Linked DNA regions of Homo sapiens: regions 1, 2 and 3 are each reported to be linked to region 4. The links are microRNA targets in miRTarBase. Many come from high-throughput screens and were not tested one by one. Region 4 holds a microRNA gene; each other region holds the end of a gene's coding sequence.

What was found. The annotated mature microRNA hsa-miR-1283 reads UCUACAAAGGAAAGCGCUUUCU and lies in region 4 at 1,541-1,562, opposite strand. An mRNA with a match to its seed (bases 2 to 7 or 8) in the 3' UTR can be bound and repressed. Matches are read on the target gene's strand: a 7mer-m8 pairs with bases 2 to 8, a 7mer-A1 pairs with bases 2 to 7 and ends in A, and an 8mer does both.
Region 1: the mRNA of PPP1R8 is a reported target of hsa-miR-1283. Seed matches in the 3' UTR shown: 7mer-A1 at 785-791.
Region 2: miRTarBase lists FNBP1L as a target of hsa-miR-1283. Seed matches in the 3' UTR shown: 7mer-m8 at 1,173-1,179.
Region 3: the mRNA of FBXO9 is a reported target of hsa-miR-1283. Seed matches in the 3' UTR shown: 7mer-m8 at 558-564.

Annotation. Positions count from the first base shown.
Region 1 is chr1:27,849,862-27,853,050 of GRCh38, forward strand. It overlaps PPP1R8 (protein phosphatase 1 regulatory subunit 8), which reads left to right. Exons shown (of 7, transcript NM_014110.5): 7 at 232-1,815. The coding sequence ends at 585. Among named protein-coding and RNA genes, the nearest start is that of PPP1R8, 21 kb to the left of the region's middle.
Region 2 is chr1:93,551,778-93,554,966 of GRCh38, forward strand. FNBP1L (formin binding protein 1 like) reads left to right here. Exons shown (of 17, transcript NM_001164473.3): 17 at 632-2,884. The coding sequence ends at 639. Among named protein-coding and RNA genes, the nearest start is that of TRC-GCA7-1, 37 kb to the left of the region's middle. RefSeq lists a silencer at 895-1,189 and an enhancer at 1,237-1,765.
Region 3 is chr6:53,097,145-53,100,333 of GRCh38, reverse strand. FBXO9 (F-box protein 9) reads right to left here. Exons shown (of 13, transcript NM_033480.3): 13 at 1-2,612. The coding sequence ends at 2,504. Among named protein-coding and RNA genes, the nearest start is that of FBXO9, 33 kb to the right of the region's middle.
Region 4 is chr19:53,756,807-53,759,806 of GRCh38, reverse strand. It overlaps MIR1283-2 (microRNA 1283-2), which reads right to left and starts at 1,575; the gene lies at 1,489-1,575. It overlaps MIR516A1 (microRNA 516a-1), which reads right to left; the gene lies at 2,977-3,000. LOC124904766 (a long non-coding RNA gene) reads right to left here. Exons shown (of 2, transcript XR_007067335.1): 1 at 2,124-3,000.

The sequences.
Region 1 (3,189 bases), not on the chromosome of region 4:
TGTTATGGAGCAGTGTTTGGGAACCATCGTAGATGACTGGAAAGGTCTCTTCAAACCGTAAGATTTCAACATCATGAAATAGGTTGTCTGGAAAGGAGAACAGGCTAGAAGTTAGGAATCTTTCCCAAAAGCCATTTTTTTAAGGCTGGAATAGAAAAAGCTAACCACTCTTGGGCCTCACCTCTTGTCTTCTCTCTCCAATCTCTCCCCTCTCCTCATCGTGAACTGTAGAAGAAGCGTGTGGAGGGCCCTGGCTCCCTGGGCCTGGAGGAATCAGGGAGCAGGCGCATGCAGAACTTTGCCTTCAGCGGAGGACTCTACGGGGGCCTGCCCCCCACACACAGTGAAGCAGGCTCCCAGCCACATGGCATCCATGGGACAGCACTCATCGGTGGCTTGCCCATGCCATACCCAAACCTTGCCCCTGATGTGGACTTGACTCCTGTTGTGCCGTCAGCAGTGAACATGAACCCTGCACCAAACCCTGCAGTCTATAACCCTGAAGCTGTAAATGAACCCAAGAAGAAGAAATATGCAAAAGAGGCTTGGCCAGGCAAGAAGCCCACACCTTCCTTGCTGATTTGATATTTTTGGTCATGGAGAAGGGTGGGATTGGGTGGGAATGGGGTGGAAGGGTGATGGGGAGCTAATGAACTAGGGAGAAAAACTTTCCATGTGTGCGGTATCGTCTTTCAGAATGTCTCCTGGCATCCTAACCATGTAATATGACAATTGGGGGTGGGGTTGAAATAGCCCATAAAGACCTGTCTTCACAACACTTGCATTGTAGAGAAAGGCTTCTTATATCCTTTTCAATAGACTGCCCTGGCTCTTTCCTAGGCCTTCCACTACCTCCTTTCTTTCTCCCACTTTCTAGGATCATTTTTATGTAAAGTCACATATCCCAGGCCCTCAGGTTGAATCCAGAGCTGTAGAGGTTACAGTAGCATCACCAGCCTTGGGGGTCCAGAGCCTAATTTATATTCACTATCCTTCCAAGTCCCGGGTAGCAGAAGGGTTGCCATAGATCTCAGTTTGATCAAAAAGAAGGCTTAGAATTCTGCAGTTAAGCTGAGGTTTAAACTAAAAAATGTTTCCTTGGGTCAGTGGTTTTGAGGTCCAGTAGCTAGGCTTTTCTCTTTTGTCCTTCCTGTTGGAATGAAAACATTTCGATTTTCCTTCATCTGTGACTGGTGCCATAGACACAGGTTTATAGTTTTAACTTACAGTATTGTTTGAAATTTACCTGTTTTTCTTGTCAAACCTGAGCACTCCTCCTGCTGAAGTTTCTTATTTAATTCCAGAGTACTGTCCTCTACTCTAAGGCATTACTTTTAAGTGTATTATGAAGGCAGTTTTCAAAGGATATGACCAGTTGGGGTAATTCAAATTAAAAAGGAAAAGATTTGTTTGGAAGTAACTGGTGTCTCTAAGAGGAATTTTTAGATGTCAGTTTGGAGGCTCTTTCCCCCCTCAATTGAGAGCTCTTGTTATTCAGAGCTCCAAGACTAGACCTGGCTAACAAACATAGGAGACAAAGTTAGGAAACATTGATACAAGCTTTGTACAGAGATTTGTACATTTGTGTAATAGGCCTTTTCATGCTTTATGTGTAGCTTTTTACCTGTAACCTTTATTACATTGTAAATTAAACGTAACTTTTGTCATTTGGGTGCAGGCTGTGAATTTGTCTCTCAGTCACTGATTGCCACTGCCATCTGGAAATGTTTGCTAAAGGCACAGTCACTGGGCTTGGGAGGCAATGCTCCATCCCCATTATATTACAAATAAAGATGCCCTAAATGAGTGTGGAAATTCTAATGAGAGAATGTAGTCCCCAGACTGAAGCCTCACAAAGCAGCGTTGGTTCGGAAGTGCTTGGTGCCCTTCATCAGGAGACCTCATGACGGGAGACGGGGCTTTAGGGCGTTTGCATAAGCCCTATCACCCACCCTGCAGTTAGAGCTCTGTGCATTTGAGCCATAGCTTGGTGACACAGGAGCAAACGGAAGCTAAAGGTAAGTAAGTTTAGGAGGGATTTCAGCAAGAATTTGAATTGAAGGAATATGCCTGCATACGGAATCTCATTTGCAGTAAGTATACTGTGTTTGTGAGACTTACATGTGGCTTTGAGATGAAGATGCCAGCTAGGTTCCAGATCCTTGGGTCAAGTGCAGACTCGTAGGAGGAGCAACCTTCTGAAGAACAGAAATTCATAACATCAGCTGTGCAAAGAGTTGACTTCCCCACAGGGTCTGTAAAAATGAGTGTCTCCCTCTCCCCCTCCCCCTCCCCCTCCCCCTCTCCCTCTCCCCACGGTCTCCCTCTCATGCGGAGCGGAAGCTGGACTGTACTGCTGCCATCTCGGCTCACTGCAGCCTCCCTGCCTGATTCTCCTGCCTCAGTCTGCCGAATGCCTGCGATTGCAGGCACGCGCCGCCACGCCTGACTGGTTTTGGTGGAGACGGGGTTTCGCTGTGTTGGCCGGGCCGGTCTCCAGCCCCTAACCGCGAGTGATCCGCCAACCTCGGCCTCCCGAGGTGCCGGGATTGCAGACGGAGTCTCGTTCACTCAGTGCTCAATGGTGCCCAGGCTGGAGTGCAGTGGCGTGATCTCGGCTCACTACAACCTACACCTCCCAGCCGCCTGCCTTGGCCTCCCAAAGTGCCGAGATTGCAGCCTCTGCCCGGCCGCCACCCCGTCTGGGAAGTGAGGAGTGTCTCTGCCTGGCCGCCCATCGTCTGGGATGTGAGGAGCCCCTCTGCCTGGCTGCCCAGTCTGGAAAGTGAGGAGCGTCTCTGCCCGGCCGCCATCCCATCTAGGAAGTGAGGAGCGCCTCTTCCCAGCCGCCATCACATCTAGGAAGTGAGGAGCCTCTCTGCCCGGCCGCCTATCGTCTGAGATGTGGGGAGCGCCTCTGCCCGGCCGAGACCCCGTCTGGGAGGTGAGGAGCGTCTCTGCCCGGCCGCCCCGTCTGAGAAGTGAGGAGACCCTCTGCCTGGCAACCACCCCGTCTGAGAAGTGAGGAGCCCCTCCGCCCGGCAGCCACCCCATCTGGGAAGTGAGGAGCGTCTCCGCCCGGCAGCCACCCCGTCTGGGAGGGAGGTGGGGGGGGTCAGCCCCCCGCCCGGCCAGCCGCCTCATCCGGGAGGGAGGTGGGGGGTCAGCCCCCCCGCCCGGCCAGCCGTG
Region 2 (3,189 bases), not on the chromosome of region 4:
GACCTCAAAATATTTTGAGGTTAGCTGGTAATTTTCAATAATTTACAAGCTTCCTTCCAAACTAATCTCATACTTTTGTATGTTTCATCTTGAAAATATCTTTTGGGAAATACCACTTTAGTGATTATTTAGCATTTAGCAGTTACACATAGGAAAATACACAGTTACATAGAAAAATACACATTTGAAGATAGAGGAAACCTTGAATGGAGGGGAAGTGTTGACAAATTTTAATTTTTAAAGGAGAAACTTTTTGACTATCTGGGTTAGAGGAAGATATGTGTACCGCCTTTAGGGCATTTTGTTATTTCCGCTGAATCATTAGTTATTAGGATAGATAAATTTTTCCAATTAGTTTCAGCAAGCGTTGTTGGAAACACTGTGCAGTCAAGGATTGTGCAGTGCTGGTTGTGTGACCACACCCTGAGTCAGTGGTGTGGGGAAGTAAAGTGTGAAGAAGCAGTAAGATTGGTTTTTAATTTTGCCCATGTTTTAAATTTTCCTGGTGTTTTCGGTAGCTGACTATAAAATGATAGAGACATTTGGGACAGGCACTTTAAACTGAACACCCCTTTTGGTTTTACCAAAGGTCTTCAGTAATTGTTCTTTTCTTTTTCCTCCTGGACTGCAGGTTCCTGAAGAGGGTTTCTGAGGAAATGGGCAAGATGTTGAAGGAGGTTACATGCAGCTGCTTTTGGGGGAGGGTATTAGAGTTGTCAGGCTCAAAGAGAGTGAGAGAAGCAAGTTGCATGAGTGCATGCAGACATGATTTTTTTTTTACTAACTTCATTAGCATTTCCATACATTGTTTTTAAAAATCATAATACCAACCCTTAAGTTCCTAGTTCACAGTTATTCCCACAAAAGAAAAAGCCAACAATAGTGTACCATTTTTCTATTTATTTTATTGCTGTCTAATCAATAAAGAATGCAGAGCTGTCAAAAAATGTGTCTTACATTAGCTGTCCCAACAGGATTGTCTTCCCTCCCAGCTCTGTTTTAATTGGCTTTTAGACCCACTATCTGTCAGATCCTTGCCATCTGTCAGTGTCTGCCTGCGCCACCTCCGTGCTTGCTTAACATCCTGTTGCATGTCTAGCGTGATTGAGCTAGATTTTTCAGGCATGTCTTTAGATTCCCTTGTTCTTGTCAAAGCCTTGTTTTGTTTTACATTTGTAGTGCAAATCACTTTGTCAAACATCTCCAGCACTAATGTTTCCATCTTAGTATTTGTGCACACTGCTATAACTTCCCCACTGCAAACATTCCAGTTTTGGCATTACGAAGAAGTAGCTGTGAACCTGAAGTATTTATGATAAGAAAAAGAAAACATCTCTGCTGTAGCCTACAGCCCAGTTGAAAGAACTCTTTGAAACGTGATACATCTTCAGCACCTCAGTCTGGGAAGAATCTAGTCAGCACTGAAATCCTGGCATAATAAACACAGAAGATATTCACCACCTCAAGACAAAGGACTATTGTCAAAAGTCAGCTGCTTCCATTCAAATGCTGCCTTAAACTTGAGTGCCTAAATCTGTTGATTGCCAACACTACCACTACAGTATCCCACAAAGGGCTTTATGTGTCAGCTCAGTGCGACCTGCTTTAACTCTGCAGCACCGCTGCAGCTGCCGATGTAGCCTCGGTAGGTGGCTATTAGAGCTCTACCATATACAGTGGTGCATCTTCAAATTTATGCATCAAACTAAAGACATGTCCAAGTCCATTTTAATTTCCTCAGTGGTTTTATGAGAAGTTTTATGGGCCTCCCCCAATTGTCTTTTTATTTTGGGTTATGACGATCATGTTTGATAATTACAATGATAGTCTCTTTCCACGTGATGCTTTTGTTTGAACCTGATAAAATTTAGTGAAACTTTGTAATGATCTATGTGCACTTTTACTTGTAAAATGGAATTTCTGTATGTTTATACTTGTAAATATGATTGTTGTTAGTGCTCCTGTTGCTCATGGTGTCCTGCCTCGCATTTGTGATTCTGTTAATGACATGTATCTTAACTAATTTCTTAGTGGTGTTGTAATAGGGAGATGGGGCAGGTGGGGGGTTATTTGTACCACTGAATCTTCATTAATTTGGTTCTTTACTGTTTTGAGGGGAGAAAGAACGTGAAATGGTTTGTGTATTATTGAATTTTAAGCAATATTTTAGAAGCTGTGTGACTGCTTTAATAACTTTTTCCCAGTGTTATTTGAATCATACTACCCGTTATACTAAAGCTGAATGACAATTGTGTGAAAGTTACTGCCTTCATAAGATCAAGTCACCACTGTTACACAGCTGACATATAGTGTATTACCTTTGCAGCTAGTAAACTATAAAGTTTAGATATTGAATCTCGTTACAGGGTTATTTATATAATGTGACATTATTCAGTACTGACAGACTACATGAAGTAGTTTTAAAATCTAGTGCTATTTTTATTTTAAAGGTTAGCAATGAGGAGGAAATGTGATCTGGCTGTGTTTGTCTTCTGTACAAAGCCTGAAGTGCTTATGGTTTTTTGGCTAACAGCCACAGAGGGCAAAGTTTAAGACTTTCTTGTAAGGACTAACTGTTCTTTTCAAGCTACTGTTTGTTTTTCTAAAAGCAGGATTTGCTTCCGTAGGAGGCAAGTTCCTTGATGTGGAATAGTGCAACCTGTATATGGGTTATTATAATAGGAAAGACATTTGTACTTGCACAGTTTAAATCATTCTTAAATTTTGAACATGTGAATTGTCCCAAAAAATCTTTAATTTTTTGGTAATTTTTACTCTTTTTGTGCACATGTTGATTTCTTAATGGTAAATCCTTCATTTAAAGATAGTGTTCTCTGTTGAGAATATTTACATGGAATAAAACAATCTTTTCATGGCCTGTTAAGGTGTTTAGTGTGTGATCTTTCATTGCTATGTGAATCAGAGATGTGATGATTTTGTTCTTGAATGTGCCAAGTCTCAGATAATACAGAGTAGATGACAAATTCCATAAGTGGGACAAGTTTTTTTTGTTTTTTGCAAAGCAGTTTTGGAAATTGTATTCTAATTTTGGTTTCTCTAAGCTTTCCTAAAGGAAAAAAAAAGTTTGCTGTCTCTTTAGAGTGAATTTAAATTGCATGCAATAATTTGGATTTATCTTTCTTCTCCAGTAGCTGTGTTGCATAGACTTTCCTTTTACACCATCTGTCC
Region 3 (3,189 bases), not on the chromosome of region 4:
CTTTTCATAGTATTGGTTTCTGTAATGTCCTAATAGAGCAAAGGAAGGACACTCCTGAAGTTAAAAAGTTTCTACGGCAGGATTTGCAAAGACCAGAAGAAAAAGGTTACATAGCAAAAATTTTCTTCTGGTTATCTTTGGGTGTTTTTTTAAATTTTATTTTATCTGTATATTCTAATTTTCTCACAACAAATATATATTGCTTTTGCATTTTACAAATATACAGAAAATGTAATCTGGAAAAAAGTTACTTTTTCCAGTTCTAAGTTAAATAAGTGAAAGTCACTTTACTGCTTACAAAGAAATCTTTAAATTTGAACTTGGTATCCACCATCTGCAACAGATCATTCAATCTAGGGATGTTGCAGAACAACAGGGACTCCTCAAATCTCACTTTCCTTAGGAATATATTTTTCTAGCTATATTTGACTATGTCCTAATCATGTTCTATTTATTTGTATATCAGAAATAACAGTCATATCATGAAGAGCTACCTTATCTTAGGCAAGTTGCTTTTCTCCTTCCTTTCCAACTTGAAAAACACACTTCTCAGATTGCTACAAAAGGCCAACCTCTCTTTTTTTTCTTTTTTGAGACAGGGTCTCGCTTTCTCACCCAGGCTGGAGCACAGTGGTGCAATCTTGGCTCACTGTAGCCTCAGCCTCCTGGCTAAGTGATCCTCCTGCCTTAGCCTCCCAACTAGCTGGGACCACAGGTGTGTACCACCATGCCTATTTTTTTTTTTTTTAATTTTTAGAAGAGATGAGGTCTTGCTATGTTGTCCAGGCTGGTCTAAAACTCCTGACCTCAAGCAATCCTCCTGCCTTGGCCTCCCAAAGTATTGGGATTATAGGTGTGAGTCACCACACCTGGCCAACTCTCTTCCTTCTGTATGCACATTTCACCTTTAACATAACGTGTACTATCATCATTATTTTTTTGAGATAGGGTCTCACTGTGTTGCTCAGGCTGGAGTGGAATGGCACGATCTTGGCTCACTGCAACTTCCACTTCCCAGGCTCAGGCAATTCTCCTGCCCCAGCCTCCCAAGTAGCTGCGACTATAGGTGTGCCCCACTGTACTTGGCTAATTTTTTTTTTTTTTTTTTTTGTAGAGACGGTGTTTTGCCATGTTGCCCAGGCTGGTCTTGGACTCCTGAGCTCAGGTGATCTGCCTGTCTTAGCCTCCCAAAGTGCTGGGATTATAGGCATGAGCCACCACGCCTGGTCTGTATGTGCTTTTTAAAAAGCCTATCCCATACTGAATTGTGGGAACCTATGAAGTGTCTCTTAATGTCAATTAAAAGTAACAGTGGCTGCAGATATTGATTTCTGAAAGTACATGAGAATTTGTCTCTAACTATGGTTGAAACAACAAAACCAAATCTGAATCAGGTAGAGGTCTACCAGACACAAACTCTGAAATTAAACACTAATAGGACTGTTACTGGGCAGGGGGGACTCCTTTGAGTAAAAAGGTAACATACAGTTTTCCTAGGTGGCTGGTGCTCTCCCCCAACTTTCATACTGGAACAAGAGTTAGGCTCAGGTTTACATGATCCTCTACTATTCTTTTGTGAAGAATGACAACTGAGTCAGTTGGTTGAGCTTGAAGTGTTCCAGTCCTAAGGGATTCACTCTCACTTAATGTCATATATTGGTAAGGTGCCTACATGAGGTCAGTGTTTGTGGCTACATATAAAGACCAATGATGAAATGAGGAATTATTTTTTTTTCTTTTAATAAGGGATGGGGTCTTGTTATGTTGCCCATGCTGGACTCAAACTCCCAGACTCAAATTCCTGGGCTTAAGCTATTCTCCTGCATCAGCCTCCCAAATAGCTGGGACTACAGGTGCATGCCACCACACCCAGCTAGAGGCAATGATTCTTAAAGTCTCCGCTGGCTATCTAGGACTCTTATTAAATATCCTGTTACTTTAAAAAGGCCATCCAAATATATTTTCTTGAAAGAAACATTTATTTATGATCTTTATTGGTGAAATAATTTCAAACAAATCCAGAACAGGTTCTCACACTTTGAGCCTTTAGTGCAAAAACATTATGCCATGCGGGAAATAAAATGCTTATCCAGTGGAGCGCTCCCCTGATGCATTGAAATATTAGGATACTCAAGCAGAAGACGACTTATGTGACAGAAATCTGCTCATAAATCTGCTTGAAAAAGGGCATGATAAACCTCATATTAAGGTTTCTCACAACATAAATATGCTTAAGCAACTTAATTCCAACTTAATTTCAAAACACCCCAGGAATCAACTATCCCTTTAAATAAAAAAAATAATCAATTTATATTCTTCTTAAAAGAACTCCAACAATTTAAAATAAGTTCCAATTCCATATATATATATATATATATATATATATATATATATATATATATATATACACACACACGCACACACACACATTTATAACTTAGGTGCTCTTTTGCGCTATATACTTTAATTCATGCAAAAGTGATAGAGGACTGGACTTGAGGCTCTACAGAGGCCTTTCTGAGAAAGCTGTGTAGCTCCTTACTCTGGCGAAGAACAAGGGGGTGTACATCTTGTCAATCTCAAAAGCACTGACTGCAGTCTCACCAGTTGATCTGTAAAAAAAAAGCACAAAATTACTAGTATGAGGAAATTTCAATTCATTTAAAATCCTTGTGTGTTTGGGGAAGGTTATTCTATGCTTTAGCCTTTTTTATTTTTAATTCATCTTAGGAAATTCTATATAATATAGGCATATTGTAGAAAACTCGAAAAATTTAGAAATGTATACAGAAACATCACCACAATTCCAACACTCAGAGCCATATGAAGGATATTTTCTAGTGTTTCTTGAGATCAAACTTAGTAATTCTTTTTATTTCATTTAATTATTTGTATTTTCCCACATCATTATTTTTCAGAAACCATTTTTAGTGGCAGGATGATATTTCACTGTCTGCTTGTACCACAGTTTACTTAATTGGAGATTTAGGTTGTGTCTACTATTTCTCAATTAAAAATTATGTGATTTTGATGTCCTTCAGAGATTCCTAAGATAGAATTTTTAAGTCAGAAGCTATAGACATTAGGTTCTTCTTAAAATGTTTCAGAAATAACTATATTCCTAGAATATAATTTGATTATTTAATAATTGCATGATCAACAGCATAATTATAGGCAGGGGGGAGGGAA
Region 4 (3,000 bases):
CGGCCTCCCAAAGTGCTGGGATTACAAGTGTTTGCCAGCGCACCCAGCTGATTTTTTACTTTTTTGAGACTCAGTCTCACTCTGTTGCCCAGGCTGGAGTGCAGAGGCTTGATCTCAGCTCACTGAAAGCTCAGCCTCCCAGCCTCAAGCAATTCTCCTGCCTCATCCACCCGAGTAGCTGGGATTACAGGCATGCACCAAGACCACGTCTCACTAATTTTTTTATTTTTAGTACAGACGAGGTTTCACCATGTTGGCCAGTCTGGTCTCGAACAACTGACCTCAGGTGATCCTCCTGTCTCCGCCTCCCAAAGTGCTGGAATTACAGGCATGAGCCACCGTACCTGGACTAGTCCCATATTTAAAGTTAGGAAGAAAAAAAAAGATGCCCACACCTAAACAGCAAATCATTTGTTGTTCAAGTACATTTCAAATACATTGTTTATCTAAAATACATGTTTAACTGGGGTCAGGTATGAACCAAAGAACAGTCCTTACTTTCTTCTTGTCTGTGCATGGGGGGTTAATATTCACATGTAGTCCCATGTACCAAGGACTGGGGAGGGGCAGAGGCAGGAGGATCTAAGCCCACTTCAGCCTGGGCAGCATAGTGAGATCCCCATCTCATGCATTTATCTCCTGGTCACACACCGAAGATTTTAGCTTCATTTCCCCAATAAACACTGAAGCCCCATGCACTCCACCTCTGTGCTCTTGCTGAGCAGTGCACATCCCATCTGCAAGGGAAACTGAGGTCCCCTCAACTCCACCTGACCCCACGTGAGGTTCTATACCAGTGCCAGAAAAATTTCCATAAAGTAAGAGGTGTTGATGGCCACGCAGTGGCTCATGTTTGTATTCTCAGCACTTTGGGAGGCTGAGGCAAGCAGCTGACTTGAGGTCAGGGGTTTGAGACCAGCCTGGCCAACATGGTGAAAGCCCATCTTTACTTTAAAAAAAAAAAAAAAAATTCAAAAAGTAGCCGGGTGTAGTGGCAGGTGCGTGTAATTCCAGCTACTCAGGAGTCTGGGGCAGGAGAATCACTTGATCCTGGGTGGCATACATTGCAGTAAGCCGAGATCAAGCCACTGAACTACAGCCTGGGTGACGGTGAGACCCCATCTTAAAAATAAATAAAAAAAAAACCCAAATATTATCCAGGTGTGGGGATGGGCGCCTGTAAATCTCAGCTACTTGGGAAGCTGAAGCAGGAGAATTGCTTGAACCTGGGAGGCGGAGGTTGTAGTGAGCCAAGATGGGATGACTGCACTTCAGCCTCGGTGACAGAGAGAGACTCTGGCCCCCAAAAAGGACCATTTAAATCCAAGAGACCTAGGTGGGATGTGCCACCGCACTCCAGCATGGGCAACACAGACCCTGTTTTAGAATAACAAAGCAAAACCAAAACAGAACCCCGCCACCGTCCAAGTGTGATAAGCATGCTCTGCAAATGTATTACCGAGATCAGCATCAACTTCAACGCTGCTTTTCTCAAACCGTAACACTCCAAAGGGAAGCGATTTCTTTTCTTTCAGACAACAGAAAGCGCTTTCCTTTGTAGACTCACAGCTTGAGATCTTCTTGCTCCAGCACTCTGGGTTTCTTGTTGAAATTTTCCTTGACCAGGTTAAAATGGACAGAAAAATAAAGATGCATTCATTGTCCCTATTTGCATGTTTTCTGGAATCCAGAACATAACCCCCTAAAAGGACCATCTCCAGTTCCTTGCTTCAAAGGCTCAGCAGGTTAGCCTTGTTCAAGAGGCAGTCCTCCTGAGTATTATCTACAAAGAGAAAAAGCAATGCCTACTACACATACCTTTTTATTTTTTATTTTTTGAGATGAAGTCTCGCTCTGTCACCCAGGCTGGAGTGCAGTGGCGCGATCTCAGCTCACTGCAACCTCCGCTTCCTGGGTTCAAGCAATTCTCCTGCCTCAGCCTCCCAAGTAGCTGAGATTACTGGTGGAGCCACCACGCCCAGCTAATTTTTGTATTTTTAGTAGAGATGGGTTTCACCGTGTTGGTCAGGCTTGTCTCGAACTCCTGACCTCGTGATCCTCCCACCTCGGTCTCCCAAAGTGCTGGGATTACAGGCATGAGCCACCACGCCCAGCCCACATACCTTGTCTTTAACCAAGACAATTGGCCTGGAATTCATGAGAACAGCAATGGATGTTGAGCCAAGTGTTCACTTGAGTTCCAGTACAGGGGCACACAGTCCGGATGGGAGCATCCAAATGGAATCTAAAATGTTGAAGAATATACATTGTCACACACACAAACATTCTCCAGGATAGACCACAGGCTGGGATGTAAAAGCTCCTCCATAAAATTTGAGCAGAAACACACAAGAGTAGGGCACGCTTGCTCACACCATTAATCACAGCAGTTTTGGAGGCCCAGGCGGGAGGAGCAATTGAGCTCAAGGGTCCGAGACCAGCCTGGGCAACATGGTGAAACCTCATCTATACAAAAAATACAAAAGTTAGGCAGGTGTGGTAGTGCATGCCTGGAGACAGGTATTCAGGAGGCTGAGGTGGGAGGTGGAGGTTGCAGTGAGCCGAGATCGCACCACTGCCCTATAGCCTGGGTGACAGAGCCAGACCCTGTCTCAAAAATAAATCAATAAATCAATAATAAAAATGCAAAAGTTAGCTGGGCATGGTGGCACAGCCTGTAACCCCAGCTGCTCCGGAGGCTGAGGCAGGAGAATTGCTTGAACCCAGGAGGCAGAGATTGCAGTGAGCCAAGTTCCTGCCACTGCACTCCAGCCAGGGCCACAGAGTGAGACTCTGTCCCAAAAAGAGGGCCACTTGAACCCAAGAGATCTAAGTTGGAAGTGCCACCGCACTCCAGCCTGGGGAACAGACACCCTGTCTTAGATAAAAAACAAAACCCCACCATTATCCACGTCTGATGATCAGCACGCTCTGCAAATGTATTACCAAGATCAGCGTCAACTTCAACGTTGCTTTTCTCAAACCGTAACCCTCTGAAAG